Regions from separate parts of the Homo sapiens genome. Here region 1 is linked to region 2. A link means that fine-mapping ties the variant in region 2 to the expression of a gene that starts in the linked region. Tissue or cell type: cerebral cortex. Region 2 holds a variant in brackets; the other region holds the start of a gene. All regions are shown on one strand. Distances are between the middles of the regions.

Region 1 (2,902 bases), 5.3 kb after region 2:
GCCTGTGCCTCCTGTCCCTCCCAGGAGATCCCACAGGTGATGACCGCCTGTGCCTCCTGTCCCTCCCAGGAGATCCCACAGGTGATGACCGCCTGTGCCTCCTGTCCCTCCCAGGAGATCCCACAGGTGATGACCGCCTGTGCCTCCTGTCCCTCCCAGGAGATCCCACAGGTGATGACCGCCTGTGCCTCCTGTCCCTCCCAGGAGATCCCACAGGTGATGACCGCCTGTGCCTCCTGTCCCTCCCAGGAGATCCCACAGGTGATGACCGCCTGTGCCTCCTGTCCCTCCCAGGAGATCCCACAGGTGATGACTGCCTGTGCCTCCTGTCCCTCCCAGGAGATCCCACAGGTGCTGTGGTTGTGCTGATGGAGGAGTGGTGACAGGGACGCAGGCAGAGAGGGGCAAAGTCTCACAGGGGCAGAGGGTGTCTGTGCCAGGTGGAGGGGCCTGGGGAGGAGATGGAGTGGCCTCTCGTGGAGGGGCAGGTACAGGAGCCAGGCAGAGCCCAGGGACAGGCCCATGCCAGCACCAGCCTGGGATGTGAAGGGATGACCTCAGGGCAGAACTCTCAGTGCAGAGCTCAGCACAGAACAGGACACCATCTGGGGAGAGTGGAGGTGCCGCTCATGTAACTGAGCACTGAGGACAGAGGACACATTCCCAGGAGCCTTCTGCTGGAGTCCACACAGGGGAGGGAGGGAGAGGGGGAAGTGCCCTTTTTCTTGTTTATCCTGTGATTCCATGGCTCACTGCCGTTTCCACAGCCTTTCCACTCCCCAGAAAACTGTGCAGCTCCGTTAATGATTTTCTCCAAGACCTTGCAGCTGATAACTGAGCCAAGGCCCAGTCCTGGACTCTGACTTCAGGATCCCACATGGGCTCCCGTGTACCATGAAGCCACCCGGATGGCCGTGGACAGACCCTTCAAGAGACACTTACCGCTGCTCTTCATTGAGTTCCAGCTGCAGTCCTCAAGGGGGATGAGGGGCATTTGTCCCCACCCTCAAGGGACATTTGGCAATGTCTGGCGTCGTTTCTGGTGGTTGCACCTTGAGGAGGGGCGCATATGCTCCTGGCATCTGGTTTTCTAGTGGGGAGGCTGGGGATGCTGCCAAGTGCCCTCCAATGCACACAGCGGCCACGGTGGAGACTGCAGCCTGAAAAGTGGGTGGTGTTGAGGCCGATACTCTGGCCCACCACGATGCCATGTCCTCCCTCTGACAACCACAATCAGGAAGACTTCTTCAGCTCGTCCTTGTGCCCCCAAAGTCCTCGTTCCCACGGGCCCCCAGGAATGGTTCTGGGAGTCCTTCGTCGCTTTCATGGGGGTGGTATGAGGCACTCCAGCTTCGTCGTGCCTTGTCTGCACCTTGTTCCCAGCACCGTCCTTCCTGAGCCCAGGGAGTCAGAATCCACAGTCTTAGAGTCTCCACCAGCAACATCTCAGCTCAGCTGAGGGTCATTCCTACTTTCAGAACAGGCTGACAGTGGGGCAGCCAACCACTCTGCCCACGAACCCCAGTTCTCCGTCGCTCACCACTCTGCCCACGAACCCCAGTTCTCCGTCGCTCACCACTCTGCCCATGAACCCCAGCTCTGCGTCGCTCACCACTCTGCCCACGAACCCCAGTTCTCCGTCGCTCACCACTCTGCCCACGAACCCCAGCTCTGCGTCGCTCACCACTCTGCCCACGAACCCCAGTTCTCCGTCGCTCACCACTCTGCCCATGAACCCCAGCTCTGCGTCGCTCACCACTCTGCTCACGAACCCCAGTTCTCCGTCACTCACCACTCTGCCCACGAACCCCAGTTCTCCGTCGCTCACCACTCTGCCCACGAACCCCAGTTCTCCGTCGCTCACCACTCTGCCCACGAACCCCAGTTCTCCGTCGCTCACCACTCTGCCCATGAACCCCAGCTCTCCGTCGCTCACCACTCTGCTCACGAACCCCAGTTCTCCGTCGCTCACCACTCTGCCCACGAACCCCAGCTCTGCGTCGCTCACCACTCTGCCCACGAACCCCAGCTCTCCGTCGCTCACCACTCTGCCCACGAACCCCAGTTCTCCGTCGCTCACCACTCTGCCCATGAACCCCAGCTCTCCGTCGCTCACCACTCTGCCCACGAACCCCAGTTCTCCGTCGCTCACCACTCTGCCCATGAACCCCAGCTCTGCGTCGCTCACCACTCTGCCCACGAACCCCAGTTCTCCGTCGCTCACCACTCTGCCCACGAACCCCAGTTCTCCGTCGCTCACCACTCTGCCCACGAACCCCAGTTCTCCATCGCTGCGGAGATGCTTTGGAGCCACCGCTGGGGGGCCCTCTCCAGCCCACCCCAGCCTCCTGACACAGTCTCCCCCGAAGACTCAGCTTCAGTCCTCCCCACAGAAAACTCAGAAACAGGAAATGAATAAAGGACCACAGGCTTGGCTGATTGGCAGAAGACAATGGAGGAGCTAGTGTTTGACAAAACAGTAACGACACCTCTGATGGCAGAGCCGCGCAGTTAGCATCTTCTTCCCAAATACAGCAAATTACCCAGCAAGGGCAGGAAGCTTTGGCAGAATTAATCACTACCTGGAAAACAATTTCACACTAGAATAAACAGGAGAGAGAGGGAATAACAAATGCATTGCATTGTCCAGTTGTTAACCTGGGCCTTGATATATATTAAAAAACAAGGCAATTACTTCCAGCAATGACAGAAACTCATCTTGTTTAGCAAAATAAGATAAAGAAGTCTGGGGGTGGAGAGCCAGCGATCTGAGCGAAGACATCCTGAGATGATAAATATCTCATGTCAAGCCCGCACTCAGCCGCAGGCTTCTTGGAACAGAGGCAGCCAGCTCCGTTCCATCTGAGGGAGCAGAGGAAGGAGGAAAGGCACAGAACATTGG
Region 2 (2,902 bases):
ACTTGCATAAAAGCTTTAAACTGGATTCTGGTATTTTTGATTATTTTAGGTTAACAGAACAATATCATATACATCTGTTTCCCCAGCACCTGTCATGCGAAAATAATTTAACATATTTGTGCACAGATGCTTGAGTGTTTTTAAAAAGTCATATGTAATAAACCTTTGGAAGCCACAGACCCCAGTGCCTCTGAGATGAGACTGGCATGTGGTAAGGCTGTGAGCCTAGGAGGCACGCGTTTAGAGCTTCAAGGATGTTAGTGGTTTCTTTCTGACACCAGATCTCAGCAAGCTTCACTCCTGGCACTAGGAGCCTCCATATTTAGCATTGCCGGAGAGGATGACGATGGTGGTGATGAGCTCAGAGAGTTAACATCTCAGAGGTTAAAAACCTCACTGCTGGCTACACAACAACGTGAATGTACTTAACGCTACTGAACTATGTACCTAAAAATGGCTAGGATGGTAAATATTCTGTTATGTGTATTTTACCAAATTTTAAAAACAAACAAACCACTAGTTGATGGTGGAATGTCAAATCCAGCACTTTCTGATTCCAAGGCCCACATGGTATTTCTTGCCTCTGGGATGTGGCATTTTCAAGCAGCCTTTTTATCACATATCCTAAATAAAAATGATCTCTTCAGAAGTAAAATAAACAAATATTCTCATCCCACCCTGGTATGGCAAGACCTGGAAATAGAACAAGCATCTGTGGAATTTCCCTCTAGATAAGACATTGTCCGCCCCTTTTAAAAGCTGATCTGAACTGGAGGCAGAGCTTGCGTGTTGAATTTGGAAGACTTACATCAGTCCTCAGGGTTGCAGGCAGCGTTGAGTACAGCACACACTACTCCGGCCTGACCTGTCCCTCCTCTGTGGCCAGAGAGGGTGGGTTGTCAAACAGGAGGTAAGGATTCCTCTGGGTGCTTCTAAGAGCATCTATTTTATTTATTTTTTTATTTTTCCATAAGTTATTAGGGGCACAGGTGGTATTTGGTTACATGAGTAAGTTCTTTACTGGTGATTTGTGAGATTTTCGTGCACTCATCACCCAAGCAGTATATGCCGCACCATATTTGTAGTCTTTTATGCCTCGCCCCCTCCTCTCCTCCCCCCAGGGAAATGCAAATCAAAACCACAACGTGATGCCACCCGGCTCCTGCAAGAAAGCCCATAATCAAAACATTAAAAAACGGTAGATGCTGGTGTGGATGCATTGA[A/T]CAGGGAACACTTCTCCACTGCTGGTGGGAATGTAAACTAAAACAGCCACTATGGAAAACAGTGTGGAGATTCCTTAAAGAATTGAAAGTGGAACTACCCTTAGATCCAGCAATCCCACTACGGGGTACCTACCCAGAGGAAAATAACTCAATATTCAAAAAAGACGCTTGCACTCACGTGTTTATAGCAGCACAATTCATAAGAGCATTTATGTTAGAAAGGAGCTGAAGCATGATGATCTGCAGGCAAGCAAGGAGTTATGGGGGAAACTAAAATGCTCCAAACACAGGGGAGAAAAGGCCCAACAGAGAAGACAATTTCCCCATCATAGGATGGCAGGGTTTATGCATCCTACATCCTTTAATCTCCAGCACCACCCTTGAGGCACGTGTGACTTTTATCACCGTTTTATTGATGCCATAAAGAGTCAGTGGTAAAAGGATTTTCTGAAGGTACCACTGACATTGTTCTGAGTCCTCCTCGTCCTAGTCCCTGTCAAGGCCACGGTGCAAAGGTGCCTTCCATGACCCTCATACGTGTCTTCAAACATGCTCACACAGACAACCACGCTCAAAAGCCGTCCACACATGCACCACACACAGCACAACACAGACACACACACCAGACACACATGCAGCAGACACACCACATGCACCACACGGCAGCACCTCCATACCACACACTGTACACACACTACACACCACACACAACCCACACACACCATGCATCACACACACCACACACACACCACACACTACACACTACACACAACCCACCCACATCATGCATCACACATACCACACACACTACACCCCACATACACCATACACACTACACACTACACACACCATGCATCACACATACCACACACCACACACACTACACCCCCCCACATCATACACGCTACACACCACACACCACACACAACCCACATGCACCATGCATCACACATACCACACACCACACACCACACCCACACACACTACACACTACACACAACCCACCCACATCATGCATCACACACACCACACACACTACACCCCACATACACCATACACACTACACACTACACACACCACACACTACACACACCACACACACTACACCCCCCACATCACACACGCTACACACTACACACCACACACAACCCACACACACCATGCATCACACACACCACACACACTACACTCCACACACACCACACACACTACACACAACCCACCCACATCATGCGTCACACATTCCACACACACTACACCCCACATACACCATACACACTACACACACCATGCATCACACATACCACACACCACACACACTACACCCCCCCACATCACACACGCTACACACTACACACCACACACAACCCACACGCACCATGCATCACACATACCACACACCACACACCACACCCACACACACTACATACCACACACAACCCACAAACACCACATACACACACCGCACACACCAAACACATACTATAAACACCATTGACACCACACACACACCAAATACACCACACACCACACAACCACACATCCACACCACACACATCAAACACAACAAATACACACCACACAAACTACACACACTACACACCACACGCACCACATACCTCGCACACCACATGCACACTACACACCAAACATAACCCACACACACCACTCTCGCACCA

Direction of the effects. Alleles are on the strand shown, and positions count from the first base shown. SD is a standard deviation of normalised expression in the study named.
With allele A in place of T in region 2, the expression in cerebral cortex of the gene that starts at base 1,540 in region 1 is higher (moderate effect, 0.65 SD a copy in GTEx).

Evidence for each region.
Region 1: LINC02714 starts here. The variant in region 2 is fine-mapped to the expression of LINC02714 in cerebral cortex (GTEx, PIP above 0.99). The same link has a PIP of 0.9 or more in anterior cingulate cortex and prefrontal cortex.

The regions. Positions count from the first base shown.
Region 1 is chr11:134,734,583-134,737,484 of GRCh38, reverse strand. It overlaps LINC02714 (long intergenic non-protein coding RNA 2714), which reads right to left and starts at 1,540. Exons shown (of 2, transcript NR_147836.1): 1 at 943-1,540.
Region 2 is chr11:134,739,845-134,742,746 of GRCh38, reverse strand. All of the region lies in intron 1 of LINC02714 (long intergenic non-protein coding RNA 2714), which reads right to left. Among named protein-coding and RNA genes, the nearest start is that of LINC02714, 5.4 kb to the right of the region's middle. The variant A/T (reference allele first, on the strand shown) is at 1,224.